Linked DNA regions of Homo sapiens. The protein of the gene in region 2 purifies or fractionates together with the protein of the main gene of each other region. This does not show direct contact. Each region holds a gene or a part of one and is shown on either strand. Other genes may lie near its edges.

What was found. Proteins that work in one complex are often made in the same cells at the same time.
Region 1: the proteins of SOX5 (region 2) and ANKRD40 purify together in Homo sapiens (affinity purification with mass spectrometry; 2 studies listed by BioGRID and IntAct, with this or other methods). This does not show direct contact.

Annotation. Positions count from the first base shown.
Region 1 is NC_000017.11:50,697,152-50,704,914, reverse strand, and holds part of ANKRD40 (ankyrin repeat domain-containing protein 40), read left to right. Parts: intron 1-4,198; coding exon 4,199-4,347; intron 4,348-5,021; coding exon 5,022-5,516; intron 5,517-7,763.
Region 2 is NC_000012.12:23,946,551-23,954,874, reverse strand, and holds the start of SOX5 (transcription factor SOX-5), read left to right. Parts: upstream 1-5,204; 5' UTR 5,205-5,213; coding exon of another isoform or gene 5,214-5,273; coding exon 5,274-5,311; intron 5,312-8,324.

The DNA.
Region 1 (7,763 bases), on a different chromosome or scaffold from region 2:
TCTCGATCTCCTGACCTTGTGATCCGCCTGACTCTGCCTCCCAAAGTTCTGGGATTACAGGCGTGAGCCACCGTGCCCGGCCAGCTCAGATAGGGTTCTAAGTGTTTTACATGTGTTAGCTTGTTCACAACTACCTGGGGACATAGTTACTGTTCTCTCCATTTACAGATGAAGAAACTGAGGCCCAGAAACCGTAAGTTGTTTCCTCACTTTTCACAGTGCCCCTTCCCAAGGTCATAGGATTGACAGTAACTAGTGGAGCCAGAAAACAAACCTGGTATCTGATGCCAGACCTACCCTCCTAAACACAATGTCTGCCCCATAGGAGGTGTTTAGTGAAGTGATTCTGAGGTAGCCTGAAGAGGCTTCTTATAGGTTTTTTTTTTTTTTTTTTTTTTTGAGATGGAGTTTCACTCTTGTCACCCAGGCTGGAGTGCAATGCGTGATCTCAGCTCACTGCATCCTCCACCTCCTGGGTTCAAGCGATTCTCCTGCCTCATCCTCCCAAGTAACTAGGATTACAGGTGTGTGCCACCACGCCTGGCTAGTTTTTTGTATTTTTAGTAGAAATGGGGTTTCACCATGTTAGCCAAGCTGGTCTCGAACTCCTGACCTCAGGTGATCTGCCCGCCTCGGCCTCCCAAAGTGCTGGGATTATAGGCGTGAGCCACCGCGCCCGGCCTCTTGTAGATTTAATTGGAGGAACTGTCTAATAGGCCCCTCAAACTCAACATGTCCAAGATTGAATTCCAAGTCTCCCCTCATCCCTCTACCACCTCAAGCCTGCTCCTCTGAGTCCTCAGCCTCTCAGGAGTGCTCAGGCCAGAACCCTTGGCACCCTGCTTGCCTCCTGCTTGCCTCCTGTCTTTCATAGCCGACATCCAGTCAGCCAATTCTATGAGCTCCACCTTCAGATACAGTCAGAATCTGACTACTTCTCACTAACCCTACCACTACACCTCTGATACAAAGCCACCATTGTTTCTCTTGCTTGGATTATTACAATAGCCTCCTACTAGTGTCCTTGCTCCTAAGCTTATATCATACAGTCTTCTTAATTAACACAGTGGTCAGAGGGATCCTGACTTAAAACATAAGTCAGATCATTTCACTCTGCTCAAAAATGGCTCCTATCTCACTCAGTAAAAGCCTACAGGGTCCTACAATTTCTACTTCCTGTCCCCACATCTTCCCTCCTTACCTCTGTGCTAATCTCATGGGATTTGCCCTTCTGCTTACCTTTTTCCCCTGGCCTCCTTGCTTTCTCTGGAATACCAGACAGTCCTGATTCAAGATCTTTGCGTTTTGTCTTCCCACTCTCTTAAATGCTTTCCCTCCAGATATCACATGGTTTGCTTCCTCACCACCTTCAGATTTTAGTTTAGATGTCACCTTCTTGGCAAGGCTTTTCCTGGGCCCTCAATTTAAAGTTGCACAATGCCCCTTTCCAACCTCTGTCATTCCCTAATGCCTTTCCCTGCTTTACTATTGCTGTCATACTTCATCACCACCTAGCGTACTGCGTGCTTTGCTTATTTATTTGCTGATGTCTGTTTCCTCTTCTGTAAAATGGGGGGAATGTTGACAGTAGTATTACCTCATGGGTTTAGAGGATTAAATAAGTTAATACATGTAATGCCTTTAGAACAATGTCCAACACGTAAAGCATTATACCTGTATTAGCCATTGTTGTTGTTTTCTTATTATGAAGCAATATGCTAGATAATGGAATATAAGGTTACCCTCAAAAAAACGTACTCTCTTGCATTTGCAAAGCAGAATGGTGACTGCTTTCAAGTCTTAGTTGCTCAGTAATCACAATTTCAGCACCAATGAGTGATGCCCTGTTGATGAATGACACCCAGTGCCTCAGGTCTGAAATAGTTTCTGACACTAATAAGATATTTTGACTGCAAATGTAAAGCTTAAGGAGTTGAAGTTCAAAGATAGAGTAATCTATCAATTAGATTGATCACTAATCATTCCCCCACATCAGTTGTAATTCAAGTGTCATGCATAACCCTTGGTTCATGAAGAACTTGAAAATATTACCTGGCTGCAGGGGCTCTGAGTTATGGCTGCCCAGAGCCGCACAGCTCTGGACGGTAAATGATGATCACTAAGGCACAGGGCTGTGGGGGCCACGCTATGTTGACTTAACCCTGCTTTACATGGGTGGTAGTTTAGCAAGTTGGTTTGTCCCAGAGTCTCTCAGACCCACTGGTAGTAAATTACCTCCTTTACTCTCAAGCTTGCCACGAACAAGTGATCTACTACTAGCAAGTGAGCATTTTATTTCCAAAAGGGAGCATATTTTTCTCATCATGCTTCATTCATTTTTGAGGGCTCACTTATCATTATAATTGTTCACTTTTTAAGCCTGTGCCACAGACATCCACACACAAACACACTCAAGGTTCCAGTTTGCCCAGAATCAAGGGTAGATTGGATCCTTCTACTTCAAGCAAGGTCCACTTTATCCTTAGTTTACTCATTTGGTACTTTTTTTTTTTTTGAGATGGAGTCTTGCTGTGTTGCCCAGGCTGAAGTGCAGTGGCACAATCTTGGCTCGCTGCAACCTCCACCTCCTGGGTTCAAGCAATTCTCCTGCCTCAGCCTCCCCAGTAGCTGGGATTACAGACATGCACCATCACACTAATTTTTGTATTTTTAGTAGAGATGGGGTTTCACCCTATTGGGCAGGCTGGTCTCAAACTCCCGACCTAAAGTGATCCACCTGCCTTGGCCTCCCTAAGTGCTGGGATTACAGGTGTGAGCCACCGTGCCTGGCCCATTCAGTAAATATTAATTAATACATGCCAAGCAAACACTTCCTTGCCTTCAGGGAGCTTGATCAAGACTCTTCTCTCCCAAACTTAACGAGACTCTTATTTTTCCCAAATTAGCAATAATTTTGTCATTGCATCATGGAATACACCTTAAAGGAACCTGGATAATCTAATTCTAATGAACCATAATGTAGAATGTCACTCTGAGACATCAATGGAATTGCTCCCAGCCAGCCAGACATGCTAACTTTCTGTAAGTTACTAATGTTAAGCCCAGGGCAAATCAGCTTTTTCCTGGAATCATATAAACTTTCCAAATAATTATACTTCCCAGGTTAGTGAACTAACCTTCAATATTGAACATTTGTTCTAATCTTCATTTCTGTATTTGGCTATAAGAGCTCTGAAGATATGTATCTCAGTTCAGTTAGAGAGTTGGTGAAAGAAGACCTTTCAAAACACAGGCGAAAAGTATTTTCCTTCCATAATATACAGTCAGCTCTGGCACCTAGGGATGGATTTAGTTGCTCTGAATCTTTCATTTCTGTTAAGATGGAGTTTTTGCTGGCATGCTAATTATGTTTCTGTACAGTATTAAAATAGTAGCCCTTCAGAGTGTGCAGAATTGCTTCCTCTGTGTACAATATTGAGTGATTAGTTTTACTTAAATGAGTCTGATATGTTAGAAGAACCTGTTCGTGAAGAATTTTGGTTGTTGATGTATATTTTTTAAGTACCTCAGGAATTAAAGTATGTGTGCAGTGCCTTACATTTACGCAGATGAGGATATGTTTGTAGCCTTCTGGAGAGAACTAGAGAAGCCAACTTTTTAAAAATGGAAATTTGGAAATCCTTTGTGTGTGTGTTAAGGAAAGAAAAGTAAGAAGGAAAAAGAAAGTGAGCAACTGGGATTCAGGCAAGAATATCTGCTGTCATAATAATAATTTAAGTGACAGAGCAAGCTGCTGATAGGAGATGGTTATTATCCTGATAATATTGAATCTTCAGGTGGCATATGAAGTGAGTTTCCATAGTCCCTGAAAAGGAATATAGCAATAGAAAAATATGTTTCAGAGACTGAGATGATCTAATGAGCGATACTGATAGAGTATATTCCACGGTATCATTGGAGTTAGCCAGCCAGTGAGCTTACCTTCTGGAGGCTATTGAAATTAAAACTCCTAGGTTAAGTTAGTTTTTCTCAGGAGCCAGAAATGAAATTTAAAAACAAAATTTAAGCATATTAAATATTTTGCTCATCGGCTTTGTGAAAAGTTGAGATTACCAGCCCGGTTACCTGGTTCTAGCTGAACTCTAACAGGCTTGTTTATACATTATTTACTAATGTTTAGAATCTGAAATCCAAAATCACTTCTCCTCTTTTTCAATCATTATTTTCTTTGGTACAGGACTTGTTTACACTGGGCATGTAAACGAAACCATGGTCAGGTGGTCTCTTACCTGTTAAAATCAGGAGCTGACAAAGAAATTCTTACCACAAAAGGAGAAATGCCAGTCCAGTTAACATCAAGGAGAGAAATCAGGAAGATTATGGGAGGTGAGTCTGTGTTTGGGGGAACTTTTGATTTCCTCAGACTCATTGAAGACTTGTGGTATTATTGGCTACGTTCTTAATGCTGGTCAAACAACTGCTCTATTTCTTTCTTTTTTTTTTTTTTTCCGAGACGGAGTTTAGCTCTTGTTGCCCAGGCTGGAGTGCAGTGGCGTGATCTCGGCTCACCACAACCTCTGCCTCCCAGGTTCAAGTGATTCTCCTGCCTCAGCCTCCCAAGTAGCTAGGATTACAGGCATGTGCCACCACGTCTCGCTAATTTTGTATTTTTAGTAGAGACGGGGTTTCACCATGTTGGTCAGGCTGGTCTCAAACTCCCGACCTCAGGTGATCCGCCAGCCTCAGCCTCCCAAAGTGCTGGGATTACAGGCATGAGGCACCGCTCCCGGCAACTGTTCTATTTCTAAAAGCAAATTACTGTGCCAAGATAGTAATTCCAGATTGTTTCTGGGGAGGTCAGCATTGTAAGGTTTTATTTTTTTATTTGTAAAATTTAAGATAATGATAAAAATGGTAATCATAAACCTAATGAAGTATTCTTTTTTCTTCTGACCTGACACTGACCAATGTCACATACCAAAAGACACCACTTTCAAAAGACACCTTGTTTTGATAATTTTGAAAGGACTGTGTAAATGTTCTGTTTTCTTCTTTTTAAGTGGAAGAAGAAGATGATGATGATGATGATGATGACAACCTCCCCCAGCTGAAGAAGGAGTCAGAACTGCCCTTTGTTCCCAACTATTTGGCCAACCCAGCCTTCCCTTTTATCTATACACCCACAGCAGAGGATTCAGCCCAGATGCAGAATGGGGGCCCCTCCACACCCCCTGCATCACCCCCTGCAGATGGCTCACCTCCATTGCTTCCCCCTGGGGAACCTCCCCTGTTAGGGACCTTTCCCCGGGACCACACCTCTTTGGCACTAGTTCAGAATGGTGATGTGTCGGCCCCCTCTGCCATACTCAGAACACCAGAAAGCACAAAACCGGGTCCTGTTTGTCAGCCACCAGTGAGTCAGAGCCGCTCCCTGTTTTCTTCTGTCCCGTCCAAGCCACCAATGTCTCTGGAGCCTCAAAATGGGACGTATGCAGGACCAGCGCCAGCATTCCAGCCATTTTTCTTCACTGGAGCATTTCCATTTAATATGCAAGGTAACCCCTCATCAGCAAACAGCCTCTGCAACAGGGGAGTTGGTGTCCAGAGGGGTGGGATTTAATGAGGTATTCTGGGTATAATTGCAAACTTACAGAAACGTTACATGACTAACATAAGGAACTCCCTTTACTCAAATTCACAAATTGTTTACCTTTTGCCCTTTTACCCTGATACCCTTCAGTATTCTTTCCATTATATCTTTCCTAAGAACAAGGATATTCTCTCTTTTTTTTATTGAGACGTAGCTTCGCCCTGTCACCCAGGCTGGAGTACAGTGGTGTGATCTTGGCTCACTGCAACCTCCGCCTCCCAGGTTCAAGTGATTCTTCTGCCTCAGCCTCCCAAGTAGCTGAGATTACAGGAGCATGCCACCACGCCTGGCTAATTTTTTTTTTTTTTTTTTTTTTTTGTATTTTTAGTAGAGATGGGGTTTCACCATGTTGGCCAGGCTGGTCTCAAACTCCTGACCTTAAGTGATCTGCCTGCCTCAGCCTCCCAAAGTGCTGAGATTATAGGTGTGAATCACCGCACCCAGCTGGATATTCTCTTATATAACTACAGTACAAATGACCAAATTTGAGAAATGTAATCTTGAGCTAATGCTGTTCTGTAATCCATAGACCATGTTTAAATTTTGTCAGTTGTCTCAAACATTGCCTTTTGTATTCCCTCATCTACTATACGTACTGTCTGTACTATTACAGAAATAGTACTATCTGTACTATTGATATCTATCTGGACTATCTGTACTCCTCTGCCCCCTGCATCCTGCCCAGGATCATATGTTGCATGTAGTTATCACGTTGTTTTAGTTTCCTTTAATCTGGAATCTTTACCCTTTATCATTTTTGATCTTGATCTTTTTGAAGAGTCCAGGCCAATTATTTTTGTGGGATATGATTTTCTATCATTCTTTCTCTACTTATTAGTTGGTATTTTACTGTAAAGAAGGGCTTTCCCTTCTCCTTCATTCATATCAGTATTGACTCATATATTCTTATTTTATTCAGTGGGTTATAATCTGTTACTATCATTTTTTAATTATTCAAATTATCCCAGATTTGGCCAGTGGGAGCCCCTTGAAGCTAGTTCTTATGTCCCTTGCATGTGTCTTCATTGTTCTTGGAGCACTGCCTTACTTTCTGGGGCAGCAAGATGTTCCGGGCTTATAGCATAACTTTTCCTGCCCCAACCCTGGAATCAGTCATTTCTCCAAGAAGCCCTGGTTCTTTTTGGTGGAGAATGGTATTTAGGGCACACAGCAAACTTGCCTCCCACTTGGGCCCACCGAGAATGGTATTCAGACACCAGGATGTGGTCACTAGGTGTCCTCATTGCTACAGGTATATCATTTCTTCTAGGCCCGTTGAGAGGACATAGCCAGGAAAGATATCAATATTTCTCTATGTATAACTTTTTAAAAATATTAAAAACCACAAGTTCATCCTGATTCTTCCAAATCCAGTCAAATGCCATAGGGTGTAGCTAGTCTTACTTTTCCTTTTTTCCTGGAAGTAACTCTCTCACTTCCTGTTTTTGAGGAGTTACTACTGTAGGTGCTAACAGTGACCTGGGGTGCTACAAGGGATTCATATACAGGGAACAAAGCAGAACTGCCAAATGTACAGGGTGCTTGACTCAGGCTGTCTTGGCAGCCAGGTTCAGAATAAAGGAGCAGATTGCTTAGATCCCAGACCTATGAATAATAAGCCAAGACCCCTTCCTCATGAAGGTGTGCTACATTCAAATCAAGTTATACTTTAGCTTTTATTAGTAGCTTGTCATTTGGCTCTTTTACTGTCTTTTTTGCAAGGAGTTTCATATTTTACAGATACCTTTAGGTCCATAATTGTTAAATCTTTTTAGGGTAACTCACATCCTGCCCATGCCTTCTTTCCAACCTTCTTCCCTCTTCCCCTGTTCATGTATAGTTTGATACCCAAACCTGTTCTTAAGACTTTGCCTCCTTAGCTCCAATGGCAGAAGTAAATTATCCTTCTACATAGCTGGAATGGTTTCCCCTGCCTTGCTCTTACTTTGTGAACCATAGCCTTAGAAGTACGGACGACAGTGCAGGAAACTGCCCCAGCAGAGGCAGAGCTGGGCCTGAGCAAACCCTGCTGGCTGCACTTGGTTTTCCCACCAAACAGGTCTGTTAATCATGCACAGACCTTTGGCATGATTAAGTATAACCATCTTCTGGAAAAGATCTTAAACAACATGGGCTGTGCTGTGCCAGAACT
Region 2 (8,324 bases):
CTGGAAATGACATCATTTCTTTGAGAGAAGTATGAAACTAGAGTTTCTAAGGTGAAGGTGTTTCTGAAGAACACTGTTTCTTCAAATATGCAATCTGAGAACAATTCATCTGTGTATTCTAACCAACTGACAATAGAAAGAGTATGAAGTTAGAAAAACCTTGAATTTGTAGGCTATTGTGTACCAGTTCCTTGGCATACATGTATTATGGTGGACTGAATTTTAGGTCTTTAAAAAAGAAGATAGGCTATAGAATGCCTAAGGTATTTTTTGAAGAAGTCCACTATTACAAGACACTAGTCTAAGAGTTTTAAGCTACATGTGATAGGTCAATAGTGAGCTCACCAGGCATCTGGTGAATGACTCACAGATGTATATTGGTTGGAAGTTTCCTTCTTTCTTTCTTTCTTTCTTTTTTTTTGAAAGAGGAAGTGTCCTCTTTTTAATTTTAATTTTTTGTGACAAAGTAAATAACAGCACAGGCAAAAGGCATTTTCTTAATGCCCATTGTGTCACCTTAAGGCAATAAAATGTTAGTATTGTCTGACACTGATATGCTTTAAATACATTGTGATTATAATATTAAGAGTTTTATTTCTCAAAATAAGTTTTCCAAATTCTATGAGATGTGAAAACTAGGGTGATGGTAGGAATTCATATCAAATATGGAAGTGTAATTTGCACCTATGACCACATATTTTTATTTCAGGTATTAAAATAGAAGATACTTAATGATTCTGATCTAAAATAGAGGAATGAAAATATATCCTTTTAAAATGAGGACAAAAATAGTAGAAATGCATGCTGGAAACTATACCTGAAAAGGGGTTAAATTTGAAAATAACTTGTTTGTGATTTTAAAAGTTCTTGATAGTCTCTTTGAGAATTTTCCAGCAGTGTTCTCTAGCATATCTTATATTCCTTAGCCTGTGTCAATCCCCTTTTTATATCTGCAATGGAAACAACATGAGCTCAAAAGCATACTTTTTCATGTTCATTCCATTTTCCATTATACCGATGCGGCAGTGTCAAAAAGACTCATTCAATGTAAAACTTTTATTGGGTTACTGTTGCACTTTGGTCATCTCTGAAAATATATTTTATTTGTGTATCTGTGCTTGTAGATCATACTTATTTACCATTTTATGTATTATTCAGTTCTTAGCACTATGTTTTGTTCATTTGCTTTTTTATTTTTGTTTTAACTTTTCTCACTACATCTGCCTCAGAAGGCTTGAATACTCAAAAATTGATTTGAAATTTGGTTTTATATACATATATATAATTAGAATTGTTATAACTTTTTAAAATTCTTTTATTAAAGCCATAGCACTTAACATATTGGTAAGCATTTAATAGATGTTAAGTGAATGCAAAAGTATGTCTCAACCCAGATGTATTTTGAAACCTTAACAAACATCACATTGCGGTATTAGTTGTGATGTAAAGAATATCTATAGTCAATTGAATATCTTAAGCTTTTCTGATAATTGAAAAAGAATTTGGGTTTAATAGATGCGCTAGTCATGAACACATATTTAATATTTAAACATTTTAACGTTTAATGCAAAATTTAAAAGATTCAATTAACAGTATTTTAATATTAAACATTGTATTGATTGGATCATTTTGATCATTTAATGAAATAACCCAAGACAAAATTTAACCAAAACATTTTGGAACAGTCTTTCCTTTTGCTGATATTCTAAAGTCTGACAGAAATGCTAATTTTCAATATAGGATTCAAATGAAAGAAAACTTTTATGGCTTAGAGAGGTACATTTTAAAATATTCAATTAAACCATCATATACAGTATTAGCTTAATGACAGCTTTTATAAATTTTATTTTTTATAACAATTACCTGAAAGCCTTTCAGGTCACTTAAAGTATGAGTACCATCTTGGGATTTTCATCTAACTATAAATTCTGGAGGATCAGTTTATTCTGCATTATGGTGTCATAAGTGAAATAGATAGAAGTGGCTTCAAGCAACAAATGGGCTACTAACCAGTTGAATGACTTTAAATTCTGTTTGCCCAAGTTAAACAGTGGGAAAATTAGGGAAATACATACCTACCCCTTTCTACTCTGTAAGATCCATGAGCTAATTTATGTGAACAAAATTCCTTATGATCTTAGAGTTCCATTAGTTCAAATTATCATTATTAGGATGATCATTATTTGGCAAATTTTCTGTCTAGTTCCTCGTCTATTTCAACTCCTTCAGCATAGATGATTGTGCAAGAAATAATTTGTCTTTTGAATGGCTACAGTAATGTTTGCAGAATATATTGAAGTCAAAAAACTAACTTTCAAACCATTTAACATTCTCTTCTATATTCTTTGTGTTTATTTGGCATATGTACAGATGTATACATATATTAAGTGCCAATAAAATCAAAATCAAATATAAGGAAGATTCTAATATGAGTATCTTTTCTTTATACTATAGTTGGCCTCAAACACTCATACTCTTTCTTACCTGCTCTGGTGACCTTCTAGATTAGAGTTTCAAAGAAACAACCAGAGGTAGTAGCTGTAGCAAGACAGCAGCTGGGACCATACGGATCTCAGCATCCTGCCTTATGGCCATTATCTTTGTTTCTATCTTTATGCTGCCACTATGTCTCCTTGTGCTCTCTCTGCGTCCTCTCCTCCCGCCTCCTCCTCTTCCTGACTCCACTCCCATGGCTCCCTGTAACTCACCCATCCTCCTTCTTCACTTTTTTTCTCTATTGATATAAGATAAGCAAGATTTTTCCTAGTTAGGAAAAAAATTTTAAATATTTTTAAAAGTGTATATAGCTATGCAGCTACTATACCCTAATTCTCATAACAACCATTAACAAATGAAGAAAAATATAATTTTTGTATACATTATCCATTAGAGTATATTAGATTGTAGGTCCCTTAAGGGCTGAAAAAATAGAGATTTAAAATAAATGCAACAATTTTTTCATTTTTCTGTGTGGGAGTAGGTTGTTGCTGTAACAAAAAATAATTTGAGACTAACAACAAGAAAGAATAGTGAGTAATATTCTTCCCCCCTTCCCCAACTGCTGAAAGTGAAAATCATGTCAGCATCAAGTCATTTTTGCCACATCCCTTGTTAACAGCTTTTTCAGGGTGGGTCATAGTTCTATGTTTTGTTAGTGTCTTAACTCCATAGTGACATGCTTAAATCTTATTCCACATTGATTTTGTAGTGTGTGTGTGTGTATATATATATTTTTAGAACATCTCCTGATGATAGAATTAAATATTAAGTTATTATCAACTTGTCTAAAAATTTATAAGCTTTGAATGAAAAATAAATTTACTAATATAAGTTCATAATTGATTTTTTTCTCTTTGGAATATGTGTATGATGTATCACTGTGAATGTCTAAAAAAGTAAACTTACTGTTTGCCTGTCTCCAGAAAAAAAAGTGGGACCTAATCAAACTGCCGTGGGGTCAACCCTTGTGGTTTTAAAGGCCCTTAATGTTGTCCAGCTGCAAAATAAAAGGAATTGGGAGGGGAAGTTGGAAGGAGTGGAGGGGGTTGGGGGGGAGGAATGTGTGGAAAAGAACAGGGAGTCTGGCTTTTATTTTTTTTTTAAGTGAGTTCAGTGCCAGCCTGGACATTGGCTGTACAGACTATTGAGCCATTGTCTGCTCCATTTCCAGAATAGCCCCCAGTTAATCACTTCGGCTTTGAAGGGAATTTCCTCGTGGAATTCTCCACAGAAAATCTAATCAACTGACCTGCCCTCTCAACAATGGAAGGCTTTTTTTTCCTCTCTTTCCCTTATTGGGGCGGGCTCTGTAATGTAGCCTTTTGTGCAGAATGAACCCTCCCAGTAGGAGTGGAGAGCGTGCGTGAGTGAGTGTGTGTGTGTGTGTGTGTGTGTGTGCATGCGTGTGTGAAGAATGCACACTATCTCCTGTTGGTAAGTGTGTGCTTACTCCCTGACCAGATGCTGCGGTGCACGGGGCAGCCACCATCTCTGCATGCATGTCTGTGTAAGTGTCTCTCTCTCTGTGTGTATGTGCCTCTGTCATTTCGTGTCAAAGGTACATTACCTGATTACCTTTCTCGGCTGCCAGATTTTTATCTAGATAATTGGAACTGCTATGGAGGCTGTGCCTTGCCAGCCAGCTTAGAATCTGTAAAGCCATAGTTTGTCCACCTTGTTATCTGTGGCTGCCTGGGCAGAGGAAATTAAAGAGATCCACAGCCAGGGGGGCGCTTCCTACTCCTGACCTCCCCAGCGATCCCAAACAGGACAGTTTGTTAGTACCGTCTTTTTGTTTTTATGTTTTGATTTCGTTTTGGGTTTTTGTTCGCTCGTGTATGTTATTTTGGCATGTGGATACCTATTCCCCTCCACATCGCACATCGTGTTTTATGGAGTTTAGAGCTGAGGAAACTTTGGTCGGGTTGCCAGGACGTTCGCACCACTTTGCGGAAAGCACGAGCTAACAGTGAGACCGACAGAGTGAGTGACAAGTTGTTTACAGGTTTCCTTGAAGGGGCCTCTGCTATATTTCAATCTGTCAAAGTTGCTTTTCTTCCCTCAGAACAATGCCTGATTGTTGTGTGTGTGTGAGTGTGTGTGTGTGTGTGTGCGTGTATTTCCGTGTGTGAACGGAGAGAGCCTAGAAAAGGGTGAGAAGGAATAACAATTCTTTGTGTAAAAATGCTATTACTAACATTAAATTTTTTGCTTAATTAGTTAATAAATGCAGTTTAATCGAGCTTCTGTTATTATATAGACTAGGTTTTTAATCAGCAGCAAATACGTTTTACAAAATCATACTGTTCTGCGTGTGTATGTGTGTGTGTGAGTTTTATGATTTAGAAGACAGAGTATGGGAGACGTGTTAAATGAGTTGACTTCTCACATTCAGTGATGTCTAGAAGAGAGAATTAAAAGGAAAGGACAGGCACCCTGAGGTTGTCTAGAGCCTTGCAGCCGGAGCGTGTGGCTCCGCGGAGGGGGGAGCAGCCAGACTCCGCTGCTGGAAGTGCACTACCCCTTTAAGAGACTGGTCAAGGAGTCCTAGGAGAGAGAGGAGGGGAAGGAGGGGGGGAGAAAGAGAGAGAGAGAGAGAGAGAGAGAGACAGAGAGAGAGAGGGAGAGAGAGAGAGAGAGAGAGGGAGGGAGGGAGGGGGGGAAGAGACAGAGAGAAAATCAATTGGTTTAGAAGGTTTGGACTCACTTGACAGGTTCAGTTGGAGACGATCATAGGTGGCTGCTGTGACAAAGGGAAATTGTGCTTTTCCAGCATGCTTACTGACCCTGATTTACCTCAGGAGTTTGAAAGGTGAGTACAGTTTTTTCCCCCTAATATATTGAAGTACAACTCTCCCATTTTACAGTAGTCTCTGAATCATTGGAAGATGCTCCCCCAAAACGTGTTTGTTAGAGAAGCCTTTAGCTAGGGCTTCTGCAATCTTGTTAGCTGATTTTTTGTTGTGATTGCCCGGACCAAACTGAACTGATTTGCAAAGTCTCCGAGATTTCTGCTAATGTTTTTAGGTTGCGTCCTATAACAGCAAATTAAATGAACCTTAAGCATCTCTCTCTCTCTCCCCAACTCGCTGCTTCTGTCTTTCTCATTCACTCTCTTACTTTCTTCCTTCATTGATTGTTTTCTCCCCACCTTTTAAAAACGCTTTTGTGCAGAATGTTACCATTTTCAGCATCTCTGTCTCATGTAATTTCTAGGGTGACAGAAGGTTTTAGTGGTGCTTTAAACGGAGGCTATAAGTTCCTATTTGATCCTTCCGTAAAACTTTGGAAGCTGCTCAGTAAAGCACATGACCTTTTGTTGATATAAGAGAGCGTTTTTTCCCCCCAAAGAAAATTTAACATCATCGCTATATTAGATTACTCCCTAAGTGTCAAAAATAGGGGCGAAAAGGGGATAAATGGAGCTGTTCCCTTTCTAAGTTTTAGTGGCCACTTTTTGTGTTAGCTGTCTTGACTGAATTTTAATTTACTGTATTTTCCCCTTTTGCTATGATGGGAATAGTGTATTTGTAATTAAGTTGTTCCTATTTAGAGAAATATCTGCAGCATCCTTTTATTTGATGTTGTTGCAAGTAAAGCAGGGCTTTGAAAGAATTTTAGCCCTCTTAATGTTCCTATAAGTACACATTGCAATTTTTAAATTTGAGTTCTTATCCCAGCATAAGTTCATTTTTTTGAACTATAAATAGAATTTTGTTTGCCATTAAAAAGAATTCAAACTTTGTATTCTGTATGGTGAATTAAAAAAAAAAAAGCTAAAAAAAGCCAGGATGCATGATACCCAGGCTTTTTTTCATTTTCATGAAAGCTACCTTCTGTATAAACATTTGTTGTATCTGACTATGCAATGCAAGCTAGGTGCTAGACCAGCTGGTTAAAAATATGCTAAGTCAAGCTGTTCATCGCTCAAACGACTGAATTTGATATGAAAAGACGAAAAAAGAAAGGACAAAGATTAAAACATTCTAGAAGTGAAGCAATGGAAGAGAAAAAGAGTATTGAGGATAAAGTAACGCTTGAATGTGGTCACATATTAGAAAAGCCAGTATCAAATCAGGGAAGAAAGTAAAATAGCCAACACATATACTTCGGTGCTGTCATCTTTCTTTGATTTCTTCTGTGTTTTTTTTTTTAATAATTAAATTGCATCTTTACTAGATAATTCCAGCGAATGTTTGAGCTTTCTTAACAGTTTTGAATTAAAATTTTCACTTCTATATATTAACTCTTTAATTAGTGAGCTTTTATTTGCAAATATAGCCTTATATCATAGGTAGATGTTGAAGTTATTCATAGTGGAACATACTGTACATTACCTAATGTAGCGATTTGCTAATTTAACACAGTTAAGTTTTCTAGAATGCACAGAGTAGCACTTAAATGATAATATTCTTTAATTCTAATTATACTTTTTGCAAATACAACTCTGAGGCTGATTTGTAAGCCTGTTAACAGATTGTACTTATAAAAAGGTAGTTACATATTAACAGGCTGTAGCCTATTTCTCTATATAGGCAAGCTTCCTGCTGTGAACTTTATTTGTATTTTTTTTTCAATTATCTCTTTTTAAACTAAACTTTTCCCTTTCCTATTCTGATGCTCAAATCTGTTAACATCTTTTTTCCTCCTGGTGGGAATTTCATTTTTTTTTTTCACCCAGAGGCATGCTTTTCTAACTAGCTAATTAAATAAGCAAGTGATAATCAATAGGGTTGTTAGTATGACTATCATATTTAGAAATATTAGTAGCTAAAATAATTCTGAAAAATGTCACACAATATAACGTTCCTTAATAATTTCCCCTGTGGTTGTAATTGGTAATACATACAAAGATCTCAGCAAATCATTACTATTTGTTTACATTGAATTTGTACGGGTGAGTGTCTCTATAGGCACCCATGCATGATACAGTGTATCATGTAGACACAATATTGAATATTTATATTCTTCAAAGGAGGTATTTATGATGTAACTAAACTATCACATATAATTAGATTTTTTGCCTTTTCAACTATTTGCAACTTTCATTGAATAAATAGGTCATTTCTATTGACTGTTAATTTTTATTCTATTGGGTCACTTGCTATAGATGAATTTCCCACTTAAACTTAGAAATCTAAAAGAAGACTTCTAAATTTCTTTGTGAAATAGAGAACTTTGATCTAGAGGACATAATAAATTGCTTAGGGTTCATGTACTGTAAAAGTTTTATGTGATCATTTTTACTAATTTCATTGGTAGAGTCTTGTCCATCTTTTATTCTTCCCAGCCTGTAGACTATTTGAACTTTAAGGAATATTCAGAACTTAAATATCAGGATCAAAATTTGGATTTAGATTTGTATATGTCTATATTATCATCCCTAGAAATGAACATGGTCAGTACTCTCAGACTAATAAGCAGTTGTTAAATAGTTAAGAAGTAGTAACAATTTCATTGTCTGTTAAAAATATGCAGGAGGTAGTGCAAATAGAACAGTGATTCTAAAAGGTAAAGAACTTGAAATATTTTTATTTTCAAGCATTCTTGTGATAAACTGATTATGATTACTGAAAAACACAACTCCAAGGTGGGAAGCAAATGGGTGTATATATTCTAAAAAATTATTTGTAAGGAAAGTCTTCTACATTTTACCGTTTAAAGGAAACATAGCTGGCAACATGGTCTAAATGTGAGTAATAGCATCATTAGAATGAACGCCCGAAGTCTCCCCACATTTTTAAAAGAAGTCAATAAATTTATATATTTAACTGAAAGTAGATAATGAAAAATTGTGACTTAAGGTTTTCCTTTGAGAATGTCAC